4 linked regions of the Homo sapiens genome follow. The protein of the gene in region 4 purifies or fractionates together with the protein of the main gene of each other region. This does not show direct contact. Each region holds a gene or a part of one and is shown on either strand. Other genes may lie near its edges.

Evidence for each region.
Region 1: the proteins of SETD7 (region 4) and OAS1 purify together in Homo sapiens (co-immunoprecipitation; one large-scale study listed by IntAct). This does not show direct contact.
Region 2: the proteins of SETD7 (region 4) and TPST1 purify together in Homo sapiens (co-immunoprecipitation; one large-scale study listed by IntAct). This does not show direct contact.
Region 3: the proteins of SETD7 (region 4) and TAF1A purify together in Homo sapiens (co-immunoprecipitation; one large-scale study listed by IntAct). This does not show direct contact.

What each region holds. Positions count from the first base shown.
Region 1 is NC_000012.12:112,916,579-112,920,938, forward strand, and holds the end of OAS1 (2'-5'-oligoadenylate synthase 1), read left to right. Parts: coding exon 1-160; intron 161-968; coding exon 969-1,122; coding exon of another isoform or gene 1,123-1,179; exon of another isoform or gene 1,180-2,018; coding exon of another isoform or gene 2,019-2,135; exon of another isoform or gene 2,136-2,810; coding exon 2,811-2,975; coding exon of another isoform or gene 2,976-3,115; 3' UTR 3,116-3,325; downstream 3,326-4,360.
Region 2 is NC_000007.14:66,354,667-66,358,389, forward strand, and holds part of TPST1 (protein-tyrosine sulfotransferase 1), read left to right. Parts: intron 1-2,158; coding exon 2,159-2,176; 3' UTR 2,177-2,205; intron 2,206-3,723. UniProt on the Homo sapiens protein: Catalyzes the O-sulfation of tyrosine residues within acidic motifs of polypeptides, using 3'-phosphoadenylyl sulfate (PAPS) as cosubstrate.
Region 3 is NC_000001.11:222,579,250-222,583,667, reverse strand, and holds part of TAF1A (TATA box-binding protein-associated factor RNA polymerase I subunit A), read left to right. Parts: intron 1-3,777; exon of another isoform or gene 3,778-3,795; coding exon 3,796-3,909; intron 3,910-4,418. UniProt on the Homo sapiens protein: Component of the transcription factor SL1/TIF-IB complex, which is involved in the assembly of the PIC (pre-initiation complex) during RNA polymerase I-dependent transcription.
Region 4 is NC_000004.12:139,531,917-139,536,334, reverse strand, and holds part of SETD7 (histone-lysine N-methyltransferase SETD7), read left to right. Parts: intron 1-2,968; coding exon 2,969-3,170; coding exon of another isoform or gene 3,171-3,206; exon of another isoform or gene 3,207-3,770; intron 3,771-4,418. UniProt on the Homo sapiens protein: Histone methyltransferase that specifically monomethylates 'Lys-4' of histone H3. H3 'Lys-4' methylation represents a specific tag for epigenetic transcriptional activation.

The sequences.
Region 1 (4,360 bases), on a different chromosome or scaffold from region 4:
GAGGGAGCATGAAAACACATTTCAACACAGCCCAGGGATTTCGGACGGTCTTGGAATTAGTCATAAACTACCAGCAACTCTGCATCTACTGGACAAAGTATTATGACTTTAAAAACCCCATTATTGAAAAGTACCTGAGAAGGCAGCTCACGAAACCCAGGTATGCTATCCCCACATGGCTTAGCTCCCCTATGTAAATGAACACCTGGATACAGGTACAGTGCCTTGGAAATGGAGGAGGTGGGAGGGCTCCCCACTTAGTGAGAATCTCCTGTTGCCCATCATTGTACTGGGCATTTTACTACTGCCATCTGTTTTAAACACCTACCTCCAACCCTGTGAGGCAGGCACTATGCCAATTATTTTACAGGTGAGTAAACTGAGGTTCTGAGAGGTAAGGAGCTTGTCCAACCCTTAACAGAAAATGAGTAAAATAGCTGCAGTTTGAACTGAAATAAGAACAGCAGCAACAACAATGATAGTAATTGCTCCCAGGTATTGAAAGCTTGTTGTAAGACTAACACATGCTAATATAATAGTAAAAATTATTAGCAATATTACTGATATGTATGTTATGTTCTAGTCGCTGTGCTGAGCATTTCATATAACTGGGCTTTTTCTATCCTCACAGCATAGCCTTTGAGATAGGTATGTGGAACTATTCCCATTTTACAGATAAGAATCCTGAGGCTTAGAGAGTTCAAGTGACCTACCCAAGGGCACATCACTGATAAAGGGCAGAGGTGGGATTCAAACCCACATCTGTCAGGTGCAAGTGCAAGGCTCCTTCTCCTCATGCTCACTGCCTGCTGGGGAATAGGGCACTGGGGACATACCCCAGGGAGCCCTTCCTCATGTTCTGAGTCCCAGTTCATCCCATGCTGCTATTTTGCTCTCCCAGGAGCATCTGGACTCCCTAGACAGAGCCCCAGCTTCTCACCTGTCCCTCTCTAAATGCTGCTCTGCAGGCCTGTGATCCTGGACCCGGCGGACCCTACAGGAAACTTGGGTGGTGGAGACCCAAAGGGTTGGAGGCAGCTGGCACAAGAGGCTGAGGCCTGGCTGAATTACCCATGCTTTAAGAATTGGGATGGGTCCCCAGTGAGCTCCTGGATTCTGCTGGTGAGACCTCCTGCTTCCTCCCTGCCATTCATCCCTGCCCCTCTCCATGAAGCTTGAGACATATAGCTGGAGACCATTCTTTCCAAAGAACTTACCTCTTGCCAAAGGCCATTTATATTCATATAGTGACAGGCTGTGCTCCATATTTTACAGTCATTTTGGTCACAATCGAGGGTTTCTGGAATTTTCACATCCCTTGTCCAGAATTCATTCCCCTAAGAGTAATAATAAATAATCTCTAACACCATTTATTGACTGTCTGCTTCGGGCTCAGGTTCTGTCCTAAGCCCTTTAATATGCACTCTCTCATTAAATAGTCACAACAATCCCATGAGGCATTTTTAAAAATTTTTTATTATTTTAGATTCAGAGGGCACATGTGCCATTTGTTACACAGCTATATTGTGTAATGGTGGGGTTTGGGCCTCTATTGATCCTGTCGCCCAAATAGTGAACAGAGTACCCAAAAAGAATTTTTTCAACCTTTGCCTTTCTCCCTTCCTCCTCCCTGTTGGAGTCCCTAGTGTCTATTGTTCCCATCTTTAGCAGATGTTAAGTATTTGATTTTCTGTTTCTGGGTTAATTCACTTCGGATAATGGCCTCCAGCTGCAACCATGATTTCATTCTTTCTTATGGCTGCATAATACTCCATGGTGTAGATATACCACACTTTCTTTATCCAGTTCACACTGATGGGCACTTAAGTTGATTCCATGACTTTGCTATTGTGAATCGTACTGCGATAAACATACGAGTGCCGGTGTCTTTTGATAGAATGATTTCTTTACCTTTGGGTAGATACCGAGTAGTGGGATTGCTGGGTTGAATGGACATTCTACTTTTAGTTATTTGAAAAGTCCCATGAGGCATGTTTTCTATCATTCCCATCTTACAGATGAGACAAAGGCTCAGAGAGGTGAGGTCACTTGCTCAAGGACATCAGCTAACAAGTGGTGGAAATGGAATTCAAGCTCAGTGGACTCTAAAGCCAGTGCTCATGTCACTGTGCTAAACAGCCTGCCTTGTCACATCCCCACCTCTCATCTGACCAATGGGAGACTCTGAGCAGCTGAGTGACTTGGGTTGTCACACAGCTAAACAGGGGCAAAGGACCCAGTCTTGGATCTTTCCACCTCCAAGCAGGAATCTGTCTGATTCCAGGGGATTGATGATGTTGCAGATGGCTAGGAAGCAGACTCCAGGATGGAATTTAGTATGCAGGATGTTCTGGGGGAGAGCCACTGGAACCAGCACTCAGGGAAAGGGGGGAAGAAAGGATAGGAAGGAAGCATGAAAGAGAATAGGGAGAAGTGAACAGGGATGCAGAGCGAATGCCAGTTTCAGCCAACTCCAAGGACAGCCCTGGAGCTGGAATGGCCTTTAGAGCTGCCCCATGGTGACAGAGGTGGCCAGGCTTCTATACCCCTACGTGGATCACTCACTGTGCTTGGGCACCTTGGGAAAGGGCATGGCTTTGAGCAAAAGGCTCTCTGCAGCTGAGGCAACCCCTAAAAGGGCTGACGGCTGAAGTCTGTCTGCTGACCACTGTCCCAGCAGCTGGGGCTTGTTAGTCCTTCCTCAAAGGGGGATCCAGATGGCATGTCACAGTGTCTACCGTAAATGCTCACTGAATCCAGCTGCAATGCAGGAAGACTCCCTGATGTGATCATGTGTCTCACCCTTTCAGGCTGAAAGCAACAGTGCAGACGATGAGACCGACGATCCCAGGAGGTATCAGAAATATGGTTACATTGGAACACATGAGTACCCTCATTTCTCTCATAGACCCAGCACACTCCAGGCAGCATCCACCCCACAGGCAGAAGAGGACTGGACCTGCACCATCCTCTGAATGCCAGTGCATCTTGGGGGAAAGGGCTCCAGTGTTATCTGGACCAGTTCCTTCATTTTCAGGTGGGACTCTTGATCCAGAGAGGACAAAGCTCCTCAGTGAGCTGGTGTATAATCCAGGACAGAACCCAGGTCTCCTGACTCCTGGCCTTCTATGCCCTCTATCCTATCATAGATAACATTCTCCACAGCCTCACTTCATTCCACCTATTCTCTGAAAATATTCCCTGAGAGAGAACAGAGAGATTTAGATAAGAGAATGAAATTCCAGCCTTGACTTTCTTCTGTGCACCTGATGGGAGGGTAATGTCTAATGTATTATCAATAACAATAAAAATAAAGCAAATACCATTTATTGGGTGTTTATTAACTTCAAGGCACAGAGCCAAGAAGTACAGATGCATATCTAGGGGTATTGTGTGTGTATATACATTGATTCAACAAGAAATATTTATTGAGCACTTACTATGTGCCAAGCATAGCTCTGGGCACTGGGAATATAGCAATGCACAAAAGCAGACAGAAATCCCTGTCCTCATGACCCTGCAGAGCCAAGACTTCCAGAATTTTTTAAATAAAAAAATCCCTGTCCTCATGGAGTTGACATTTGTGCAAAACATCTTAATGTTAGATGGTTTTCCTATTACTAATAATTCTGAAATAAGCATCCTTGATTTATCCTTTCTCCATATCTCTGAGAAAAATTATAGAACCTCCCTGTGTGACACAGCAGCCACTAGCCACATGTATCAAATGCTTAAAATGTAGCTAGTCTAAATCTACATGTGCTGTGAGTGCAAGGTATATACTTGGTTTCAAAGACTTAGTACAAATGAAAAGAATGCCAAGTTCTTGCCAACTGATAATTTTTTTAATTGTGTGCTGAAATGACAATTTTTAAATATATTTGAGTTAAATCAAATGAACTTCATCTCTTTCTTTTCCCTTTTTAATTGTGGCTACTAGAAAATGTGAAATCATACATGTGGCTTGTGTTATATTATGTATTTCTATTGGACAGCTCTGTCCTCCAAGGTAAATCACTGGATTAAAGATTCGACTATACTGACTTACATTGCCACATTGTCACACTGTCCTTGGGACCAAGAATCAACATATCATTCATAAGACTCTAAAATATAAAACTCTCATAAATACTCACAAAAGAACCTAGCATGCTCTGATCACCTGAGTTGCTGGTCACTTTTGGTGGCTGGTAAGCAGCCTTTGGTCCGTCCAGATTATATTCTTCCATTTAGTCCCCCCACATCCCTGTGAGATGGGTTTTGTTGTTATTCTCATAATATTAAGTGGAATAACTTGAGGTTCTAAGAGGTTACAGTGCTTGCCCAGGGTCACCCAGCTGGTCAGGGGCAGAGTCTGAAC
Region 2 (3,723 bases), on a different chromosome or scaffold from region 4:
GCACACCTAAATGTGAAAGGCAAAATAATGAAAGTTGTTAGAGGATATAGAAGAGCCAGGCATGAGGCTCACGCTTGTAATCCCAGCACTTTGGGAGGCAGGCAGATTGCTTGAGTCCAGGCATTCAAAACCAGCCTGGGAAACATAGCCAAACCTCATCTCTACTAAAAATACAAAAAATTAGCTGGGTGTGGTGCATGCCTGTAGTCCCAGCTACTTGGGAGGCTGAGGTGGGAGGATCACCTGAGCCCCAGAGGTTGAAGCTGCAATGAGCCGAGATCACACCACTGCACTGCAGCCTGGGCAGTCAATCCTGTCTCATAAAAACGAAGAAGATAATAGAGGAACCATCTTTATGACCATAAGAGGACAGGATTTCTTAAGCCCTAAAAAGTACTGATTATTAATTTAAAGGTAGATAATATGAACTACATTATAATTGAGGATGTTTATGTAATAAAAATCATGAGAGTAAAATAGTGAGCCTAAGTAGGAGAATATATTTGAAACAAAGGACTTATCTGGAGCCGAGTGCAGTGACTCACACCTGTAATCCCAGCACTTTGGGAGGCCAAGGCGGCTGGATCACGAGGGCAGGAGTTTTAGACCAGCCTGGCCAACATAGTGAAACCCCATCTCTACTAAAAATACAAAAAAAAAAATTAGCTGGGCGTGTTGGGCACCTGTAATCCCAGCTACTTGGGAGGGTGAGGCAGGACAATCGCTTGAACTCAGGAGGCAGAGGTTGAAGTGAGCTGAGAACGTGCCACTGCACTCCAGCCTGGGAAAGATTGCGAGACTCCCTCTCAAAAAAAAAAACAAAAAACAAACAAACAAAAAACTCATCTGTGGAATATAGATCATCATCGTAAGGGAATTTTTTTTTAAATTGGGCAAAAAGCCTGGACAACATAGCAAGACCCTATCTCTATCAAAAAATTAGCTGGGCAGGGCCAGGCGTGGTGGCTCCCACCTGTAATCCCAGCACTTTGGGAGGCTGAGGCGGGCAGATCACTTGAGATTAGGAGTTCAAGACCAGCCTGGCAAACATGGCAAAACTCCATCTCTAAAAACAAGTACCAAAAAAAATTAGCTGGGTGTGGTGGCACACACCTATAATCCCAGCTGCTCCTGAGGCTGAGGCAGGAGAATTGCTTGAACTCAGGAGGCAGAGGTTGCAGTGAACCGAGATTGCGCCACTGCATTCCAACCTGGGTGACAGAGCAAGACTCCATCAAAAAAAAAAAAAAAAAAAAAAAGGCTGAGCGTGGTGGCATACTTGGGAAGCTGAGGCAGGATGATCTGTTAAGCCCAGACAGCTGTGATTGTGCCACTGCACTACAGCCTGGGTTACAGAGGGAAACCTTGTCTATTAAAAAAAGAAACAATCATGCAGAAGTGTGCACACAGAGACACACACACGTAGAAAAGGGCCCATAAGGTCTTCAGTTTAACTTCTAATGAAAATCAGCAGAAACTCATAGAACCTTCAGATTGAATAATTAGCTAGAATGGTTCATAAAACTCGGTAAAGTGTAGTACTTAACAATGACAGTTTTATAAAGGATGCAGATCAGGACCAGCCATAAGATAGAAGTGGGCCCAGGAGGGTCCTGAATGCAGAGCTTCTGTGCCTCCTCCCTATGAAAGCAGGGCACGTCACCCTCCCGGCACACCCATGTGTTCACCAACCGGGAAGTGCCACTGAACTTCCACACCCAGCATTTTTATTGGGGTTTATTTATGCAGGCAAGATTGATCAAATCGTTGGTCATGTGTTAGAACTCAATCTCCAGCCAACCTCCCCTCCCCAGAGTTGACGTGGGCTCCAAGCCCCAGCCCCTGATCCCATGGTTGGTCTTTGTGGTGAGCAGCCCCATCCTGAATCATCTCATAACATAAATCCAGATGTGATCCAAGGGCATCAGAAATAACAAAGACACTCTTGTTACCCAGGAAATTCCAAGGATTCGGCATTTCCCTCCCAGGAACCAGGGGGAAAGGCCAGTCAGATTCTTGAGCATACCACAGTAGTGCACTGAGTTCATCTGAAAGTGAACAGAGCCTGCGGGCCACCCCTCATGTTTCAGTGGGGACGGTCACTTCTCATGCTGACCAACTTCAAGGACATTAAAACATCTTTTCTTTCCTTCAACAGACTGAGCAAGTGGAGTAGCAGAACCAGGAGCCTCTTCCATACATGAGGTGAGGGTTGGGGGACATTGCCAGGTCTTTCTGTTTCCCACTCGGGCTCTTGCAGGGGGCTGGGTGGCCAAGGTGGAGAGCACAGCTCTGGAGTCCGTCTGCCAGGGTTGGAATCCTGCCTCTTCACTTTCTGTGTGGAAGCAAGCACATTACTTCACCTCTCTGTGTCTTCATTTATTCATCTATGAAATGAGGATAATATTAACAAGAGCATGGTGGTGAGAATTAATCATCATCCAAGAGCCTGGCTCATAATAAGCGCACAATAGTATTGTTATTTTCATTATGAACCATGAAATATTTCAGCTGAAAGGGACCTGGAGGCCATCAAGCCCAACTCCCTGTTTACTGATAAGGAAGCTGGTCCCAGAGGGAGCAGGTCGTTTGTCAGGACCATAGTCCATAGGCAAGGAAACCCAGAACTCAAGAGTGGCTGTTTACTTCTGGTTACCTGTTCAGCCAGGGCCCCAGCCACCCATCCCCACCTCCAGTGGCTTTCTTCGTGTGCTGGACTTGCAGATGTTTTTGCCCTACTGCAATTTTTGTTTGTTTGTTTGTTTCTTGGTTGGTTTTTCAAGTTTGCCCTTGCTTGTTTTAATGTATTATGGATGGCTTATGTGAGTAACCTATATTGTCTCATTGGACTAAGTGCTACATTGTAGACAAGGCCAGCCTTGCCTTCTCAGCCCTTTTTCTATCTGAGTATGTGGCCCTCATCAGGCACATGTCCAGGGACACCAGCTCATGAGTGGCAAAGCTGGTTTCTCAGCCCAGATCTCCAGGTGCAGCTGCTCAGAGTTCATACCCTTGTCCCAGACTTTCAGTCTCTGCTTATCCACCCAAACTTTCTTAAGATCAGTTTTGCTCCAAATGATGTGGCAAAGCCTTTGATCAGTTGTAACTTGAACAGCCTTTTCAAAAAATCTGATATTGGCTGGGCATGGTGGCTCATGCCTGTAATCCCAGCACTTTGGGAGGCCAAGGTGGGCAGATCACAAGGTCAGGAGTTCGAGACCAGCCTGGCCAACATAGTGAAACCTCGTCTCTACTAAAAATACAAAAATTAGCTGGGTGTGGTGGCAGGGACCTGTAATCCCAGCTACTTGGGAGGCTGAGGCAGGAGAATCACTTGAACCCAAGAGGTGGATGTTACAGTAAGCCGAAATCGTGCCATTGCACTCCAGCCTGGGTGACAAGAGAGAGACTTCGTCTCAAAAAAAAAAAATTGGCTGGGCGTGGTGGTGGGCACTTATAGTCCCAGCTACTCGGGAGGCTGAAGGAAGAGAATTGCTTGAAGCCAGGAGGCAGAGAGGTTGCAGTGAGCCGAGATTGCAGCACTGCACTCTAGCCTGGGTGACAGAGCGAGACTTCGTCTCAAAAATAAATAAATAAATAAATAAAAATAAAATCTGATATTGATAGTGATTTTTTCTCATAGTTTACTTGCTGACCTTTGTTTTTTTTTTTTATATAATGTTTTTATTTTTACTTTATATAATGATGTATTGTGCATACTCC
Region 3 (4,418 bases), on a different chromosome or scaffold from region 4:
CGGGGTTTCACCAGGTTGGCCAGGACGGTCTCAATCTCTTGACCTCGTGATCCGCCTGCCTCGGCCTCCCAAAGTGCTGGGATTACAGGTGTGAGCCACCATGCCCAGCCTATTCTATCTTAAAATCATCTCTTGACCCAAACTTCCCCCATAGACTATACTTCATTGTTTTACTCTCTTTCAGCAAAACTTCTTGAAAGAGTTGTTCTCTTTTTCCAACTAGAGTGATCCTTTTTTTTTTCGTTTTATCAAGACGTTTTTTATACGCCATCACCCACTTAAATTGTACAATTCAATGTATTTTCATACATTTACAGAGTTGTGCAACCAACCATTACCACACTCTAAATTTAGAACCTTTTTTTTCTCCCATGAAACCAAAACCCTGTACCCACTTGCAGTCCTTCCCCATTCCTCCTCACAGCTGCCGGACACTGGCAGCCACTAATCTATTACTTTCTTTTTCTTTTTTTGTTTTCTTTTGAAACGGAGTCTTGCTCTGTTGCCCAGGCTGGAGTGCAGTGGCATGATCTCTGCTCACTGCAACCTCCAGCTCCTGTGTTCAAGTGATTCTTGTACCTCAGCCTCTTGGGTGGCTGGGATTGCAGGCATGCACCACCACACCTATCTAGTTTTTTGTATTTTTAGTGGAGACTGGGTTTCACTCTGTTGGCCAGGCAGGTCTTGAACTCCTGGCCTCAAGTGATCTGTCCACCTCGGCCTCCCCAAAGTGCTGGTATTGCAAGCGTGAGCCACTATGGCCAGCCTAATCTATTTTCTATTCTGGACATTTCATATAAGTGGTTTTGTACAATATGTGGCCTTTTGTAAATGATTTCTTTCACTTGGCATAATGTTTTCATGGTTTATCCATGTTGTAGCATGTATAAGTACTTCATTACTTTTATTGCCAAATAATCTGTCATATGGAAATACCATGTTTTATTTGTCCATTTATCAGTTGTTAGACACTTAGGTTGTTTTTGCTTTTCGGTTATTGGAAATAATGCTTCTGCGAACATTTGTGTACAGGTTTTTGTGTGGACGTTTGTTTTAATTTCTCCTGGGTCTACACCTGGGAGTGGAATTGCTGGTCATATGGTAACACTATGTTTAGCCTCTTGAGGAACTGCCAGACTGTTTTCCAAAGTGGCCATACCATTTATATTCTCACCAGCAATATCTGAGGCTTCTAATTTCTCTAATCCTTGCCAATATTTTGTTATTGTCCTGTCTTACTGATAATAGTCATCCTTGTGGTTGTGAAGTGGCATCATCCTGGTTATGATTTGCATTTCTCTAATGACTAATGATTCAGAGTGAGCTTTTTAAAACATATCAGATCATGTCACTCCTCTGCTGAAAACACTGTAATAGCTTTCCATTTCATTCAGTAAAAGCCAAAGTCATAATTGCCTATAAATTCCTATGTGATGTGCTCACTTCCTTTCCTTGTTTGACCTCTCTGACTTCATCTCCTGAAACAGGTGGAGCATTCCGAATTCAAAAATGTGAAAACCAGAATGCTTCAAAGCTTTTTCATTACTGACATGAGATAGTGACACCTTTGCTTTCTAATGGTTCAATGTATACAAATTTTGTTTCATGCACAAAATTTTAAGAATATTATATAAAATTACCTTCAGGCTATATGTATAGGTGTATATGAAACATAAGTGAATTTCATGTTTAGCCTTTGGTCCTATCCCCAGTCTCATTATGTATATACAAATATTTAAAAAGCGGAAACAATTTCAAGTCTGAAACATTTCTGGTCCCAACGATTTCAGATAAGGGATACTCAACCTGTATTATCCTGCTTGTTTTTTCTTTTCCATCCTCACTGGTCTCCTTGTTCTTACTTGAATGGGCCAGGCATATTCCTGACTGATTGCCTTTGCCTTAACCAGTTCTTGGAAAGCTCTTTCTTCAGCTATCACTGCAGCTACCCTCCTTCAAGGCCCCTTTTCATTGAGGCCTACTTTGACTATTTAAAATTGCAATTGCCTTACTCCAACTGCAACCTGCACTTTCTGAATGGCACTCCTGATCTCCTTGTCCTGCTGCATTCTTTTCCTCTAACAGTTGACAATTTAATTATATTTCTTGGTTATTGTTTGTCTCTCTACATAGAATGTAAATTTCACAGGGCAGGGTTAAAACAGTGCCTGGCATATACTGCTAAATTTCTTCAGTAAAAGACAGTTTACCCACAAATAACTTGACATGAGTGTCTCATAGGTTTTACTAACACAGTCACCATTGCATCAATTAGTTATCTTCTAGAGCAAAAAAAATAAAAAAGAGAAGCTGAAAAAAAAGTTTAACCATTCATTGAAAATTTAATTTATGGACTTAAGTTACATACTCCTGTAAAACATTGAACATGTTACAGCCTCTTGTTGTCCAGATTTTGTTTTGTAAAATGAAGGAATTGGATCAGTGGTTTTTGAGCACTTCTTTGGCTCTCTTTGGATCACCTAGGGCTTTCATTCAAAGTATAAATTCCTTTACTCCACCCCTGTCTATTGAGTCAGAGTATCTTTTATTTGTATTTTTTTATTTTTTGAGATGGAGTCTCACTCACTTTGTCACCCAGGCTGGAGTGCAGTGGCACGATCTTGGCTCGCTGCAAGCTCCGCCTCCCGCCACGACGCCTGGCTAATTTTTTGTATTTTTAGTAGAGACGGGGTTTCACCGTGTTAGCCAGGATGGTCTCACTCTCCTGACCTCGTGATCCACCCGCCTCGGCCTCCCAAAATCCTGGGATTACAGGTGTGAGCCACCGCGCCTGGCCCAGAATACCTATTTTTAACTGGTGTCCCATGTAATTACTGTGTACACTGGTGGTGAGAATAGCTATCATAATCTCAAAGTTTTCTTTTTTTTTTTTTTCCTGCTTTTCTTCCCCCCCTGCATTTACCCATCCCTGGTGGTAGGTGATCCAAGACCCAGGTTTTCTTTAAGCTCCCAAATACTACAGTGTGATATTCTACAAATGAAATCTTGATATCTCTGAGTTGGGAAGATGAGGATCCTTATATCAAATGATAATATGTGTATCATATATAACTATAGCAGTGATAGTGTGTGTATCCACATATAACCAATATGTATGTTCATAGAAATAATTGATTTACAGTTCAGTTTAATTTACTTTGAAGTTGGTATTATTGATTACTTTAAATTGAGGTTAGCGAAATAGAGATTTGCTCTCATGAAAAAAGAGCTCCAAGTTCTGCCGCCAAAGTTTTGGTGATCTGAGGATAAAATATTTTTTTATTAAGATTTGTCCATAGCTAATCAAAATTCTTAAATTGGCATTCTAAATATAGAATAAATGTAGTCAATAGTTGTAGAATTTGATGGGCTCTCAGGAAATGTGTAGTTTGTTGCCCTCATTTTGCAGATGATGAAGAAGAGGCTGAGACCAATGAAGAAGCCAATATTATTAGAACCCAAATTTTCTGACTTTAATATTCTTCCTTCCATACCAATTAAACATTTTATATTAAATATGTATCTTAACTGTCTACTTTCTTTAAACTACTAAATTAATAATGATGCTATTATACTATCTGATATTTTAATAGAAATTTGAAAGGTTAAAACTATTCTATCACATAAGGAAGTAGTATTAATTTTACATGGCAAAGTAGAGTAAAATGTTGACGGTAGTGGTCTCTGGAAAAGGAATCACAGGTTATTAATGTTGTAATCAGGAAAACAATATCTTAGACAGAAATTGGTTAAGGCAAAAATTTTACATTTTGGCAGTAATTTCTGCTTTGACAGATTATTTGGAAGCTCGGAAGTGAAATTCTATTTTATCATCCCAAAAGCAACATGGAGAGTTTCAATACTTTTGCTAACCGGATGAAAAATATTGGCGTCATGAATTATTTAAAGGTGAGAATATGGGCTTTGTGAATTTACACTTGCAGTATTCTTTTTTTTTTCTAATTGCTTGTGTCAGTGATAAGGTAGTTAACCTAAAAAATGTGGGACAAGGATAAGACATTCTGGATAAATAAGAGAAACTGAAAGAAAAGAGCGTTATGAGAACCATTTACTTCTTGATTTTCAGGCGCCTCCTGTGTTCTCTGACTAAAAATTCCTTTTCTTTGTATATTTCTTCTGGCTGCCAAAACCAGTTATTCAGAGATTGCAGTGGTATGATGATGGGCCAGATTCTAAAATGTTTGCTGAAGTCACTTGAGCTTAGAGTTGGTGTTTAGAAAAGGAAAGAGCTAAACAAGTTGGGAATTTAAATACGTGAAAATATTTTAATACTTCTAATGTTTAGGTGGAATCTTCACCTCCAAGTTCATATATCCTTTTGTAAAAGTCTTATCCAAAAAGATTGAGACATTTTCAAAATATTGTATCTCCCTCTCTATGTTTTTGTCTCAAAGAGC
Region 4 (4,418 bases):
AAAAAAAATCATAACTTTTTTTCCCCCGGCTGGCCTTAAGGATTTTAAAAGTTTGCTCCCATATGTATTATGGAAAGCAAGGAAAAATATAGTGTGGAAGCTAAGCTAAATAAAGGTCAGTGAGTAAACTTTCGATATGAGCAGAGCTTTTTAGAGCAGGGATTAGCAAACTTTTTCTGTATGTGGTGAGAGTAAAATCGAGGCTCCGTGGGCCACATACGGTCTCTGCTGCAGCAATTCAACACTGCTGTTGTAGTATGAAAGCAGCCATAGATGATGTAGAAAGGAACATGCATGGCTTTGTTCCAGTAAAACTTTATTTACAAAAGCAGTCAGCAGGCCATAGTTTGCCAGCCTCCTCTGGAAAGAACAGTTAGAGAGAAAGGTAGTGCCTTGAATGCCAGTCTAAGAAACGTATATTTTATTTCCTCAATGACAGAGGATTTTAAAAAATCACTTTTATCACCCTGGAGAACCCAGTTTATGTGTGTAATATGCCCTCTTTTGTCATCAGATTTCATCTAACTTACTATTAAAAGTTGCCAAGAAAGCTAAGCTGTGGCCTCAAGCAGATGGCTGAAAAAATAACGCAGTAAGATTTGCTTTCCAATGCCTTAAGAGTTTGCATTTGTGTACTTTGAGTCAGTTGGGCTAAGAGGGAAATAGCAGTTTGTTCTTCGTACTCTGATAGATGGGATGATGGGCTCCATGGGTAAGGGAGGTTAGGACAAGCCACTGAATACAGTTGGGGGAAATGTCTGCAAGTCCATATTATTTTTTGTCTGATTTGCAAGACCTGTTTCTTGTAGATTTGATCATAACCCTGAGAAATATTGGCAGACTAGTCTGTCAGGGAGTAATATTCTACCCAAACTCACACAGGAACATTTTGAATGCTGCTGAGAGTCCAAAGTCAATAGGGTTGCCAGGATGAGCAAATAAAAATCTAGTTAAATCCAGGACACCCAGTTAAATTGGAATTTGCTCAACAAAAAAAGTAAGTATAATTATATCCCATTCACTATTTGGGACATTCATAAACTAAAAAATTATTTGTTGTTTATCTGAAATTCAAACTTAGCTGGGAATCCTGTATTATACCTGGCAATCCTAAAAATGAAGATAAATGAATAGTTTCTTGCACTACATAAATTACATCATTATGTCACTTGATTAGTACCCTTCACCAATGATTTTTTTTTTAATTGTGGGAGTCTAATGACAGTTGAATCTCATTACTTCCAACCTCACTGTTTTAGAATTTTGATTATTTATGCAAGAGCTATGCTAAAGTGCACTTTATTCTCTTCATGAATTTAGGAAGCCTATTTGTCATTGATAGTACAAATAAAACTGAAAGAAAACTATTTATCTCCTTGGGATACTACAAATAGTATAATTACCTTTTAACCAGAAGCTATCATTATTTAGAATCTGCTTTTCATTTAATAATTATAGATCATTCACAGTTGTTCATTGAAATAAGTCAAGACTTTACCAGACAGAGTCAGGTGCAGCCACCTAAGTCCTGATGGCCCGCTTTGCGTCCCATCTGCTCCAGTTCACAGTGTGTCTTGCCAGTCTCTCCTATACCATTGTGTTTGTTTTGTTCCTTATCCGCTCTAGAGCCTCACACAATGCTTGCTACTGAGAAGGCACACTGTAAATGTTGACTAGTTGTGGCTGGGAGGCCGAGTTGGGTGGATCCCTTGAGCCCAGGAGTTCGAGACCAGCATACGTAACATGACAAAACCTCATCTCTACAAAAAAAAACAAAAATTAACCCGGTGTGGTGACACATACCTGTGGTCCCAGCTACTTGGGAGGCTGAGGTGGGAGGATGGCTTGAGCCCCAGGAGGTCGAGGCTGCAGTGAGCCATGATCATGCCACTGCACTCCAGCCTGGGCAATAGAGCAAGATCCTCTCTCGAAAAAAAAAATTACTAGTTGAATTAATGAATAAATACTCTCTGCCTATGTTAAAATAATCAAGCTGTCTTTGTTTCAAAATTTTCTTACATTTTAAATTTTAAAAATAATTTGAGTTGGTCTTTCCCTATTCCAAATTTTAGTACTTAAAGGGAATTTTGGGTGTTTCATTGCATAGGGCCTTTCAGAGGATAACAATGAAAACATGTTCCTGAACTTGCAAATATATATTACAAGGAGAGAGATGGAGAAGTGCTGGTAAAATCACGTGAGCATCCCTGTGAGCTTTCTTCTGGTATAGGACCGTGGGTCTCAAACTATCAGGATGCTAATGATATCAGCAGGGTGGAGCATTCAGTCTTCCTTACTTGCCCCTACTGGCCATGATCATGGATGTATGTATATACATAGATATACATACATACATACATACATACATAGATATATAGATATACTTAAATAAATCCCCATATGTCTTCCAAGGAGATGGAAGGGATTTCATTTGACTGGATACCAATTACGGCTATTAATGATAAATAATACATTAGTGACTTGAAACAAATGTGTAGACATTCACACACTTTAAGCCACATTTCTATCATTAGAGATTACTATATACAAGCCATCTGAAAGACCCTTGAGAACTACCAGTGAATTCTGGAGCACTCTTGAGGGAAATTAGACATGAATGGTTTGCTTGTGGAACAGGTAACACCAGAATTTCTATTGCCTGAAAACATACTCAAGTGAACTTGTTCTCAGTTTCCATCAGTAGCTTTTTTCTTCTCTATTTTCTCCAGCAGAGTAAAAGGATTCCCAGGAACCATGAGATTGGGTATTAAATCTCCGTCTTTCTTCTCAGTCTTACCCACGTCCATGAAGCACCTTTTCCTAGCAGTCGATGATAATTTAGGAGGCTGCGCTGAATCCATGTCAGGGCTGACACAGCTGGGCATGCAGTTCCTTGGATATGATCCTTTCTTCTAAGAGAGTCAAGTCATGGTCTGACTATTCCTTTTTGTTTTTCCTTTCCTCACAGCACCCTGGAGGGGTATTATGTGGATGATGCCTTGCAGGGCCAGGGAGTTTACACTTACGAAGATGGGGGAGTTCTCCAGGGCACGTATGTAGACGGAGAGCTGAACGGTCCAGCCCAGGAATATGACACAGATGGGAGACTGATCTTCAAGGGGCAGTATAAAGATAACATTCGTCATGGAGTGTGCTGGATATATTACCCAGTAAGCCGTGTGACTGTTCACTCTGCTGGAAAGTAACATACTGTGACTCTTCACAATGAAGAGTAAAATGTATTCTGTGTTAGAACTTGGGAGCTGTGAAACCTGAGAGTCACCACAGCTGACACCAAGAGTTTATGAGGCATGCCCTCTCACTGTTACTCACTATTGGCTTAGATTGTTGGCCCTTGAATCCGTTATTAATTATTTTTCAGCGTTGTTTTGGAAAGGAGTAATTAATCATGATTAAAACAAATTGAGACAAATTGGTTTTATTGTATCACTAATAAAGGCAAAATATATTGCTTTTAATTCTTTTGGCACATAGAGGGAGATAGTGGAAATTTTCATTGTTGCTATTAGTTTTATTTCCTGTTTCTCATATGTAAAAACCAGTCCAGCAATTTTTAATTTGGGAGAGCTTACTGCACTGTTGTTACTTGATTCTACAATTCCACTAACTGCTTTTTAAGGTATTTTATGGTTTATATTGTTTAAATTAAGGTGATTAAAATTAACTTACCTTTGAGTATTTGATAGCATTTTATGATATTTCTGGAGTCTATTAAAGTAAAAAGATATGGCAGAACCCATGGTTGGAAATTAATGCTCTAATTTTTGTTTGCATTTCAAATGTCCCATCTGTTGTTACTGAATTTCCAGAAAATGTTACAGAAAATACACCTTAGAAAACACTTTATCTTTATTTTATTTTATTTTTTATTTATTGAGACAGGGTCTTGTTCTGTTGCCCAGGCTGGAGTGCAGTGGCACGATCTTGGCTCACTACAACCTCCATCTCCCAGACTCAAGCCATCTTCCCACCTCAGCCTCCTTAGTAGCTGGGATTACAGGCCTATGTCATCACATCTGGCTAATATTTTTGTGTTTTCTTTTTTGAGACAGGGTTTCTCTAAAACCTAGTCTCGAACTCCTGGGCTCAAGCAATCCACCTGCCTTGGCCTCCTGAAATGCTGAAATTACAGGCATGAGCCATTGCACCTGGCTAGAAAATATTTTGCTTAATACTTTATTTTGTTCATAACTTAAGTCAAAATACTCTTTTTTTGTTTTGAGACAGAGTCTTGCTCTGTTGCCCAGGATGAGGTGCAGTGGTGCCATGTCGGCTTACTGCAACCTCTGCCTCGTGGGTTCAAGTGATTCTTCTGCCTCAGCCTCCCAAGTAGCTGGGATTGCAGGCACAGGCCACTACGCCCGGCTAATTTTTTTGTATTTTTAGTAAAATGGGGT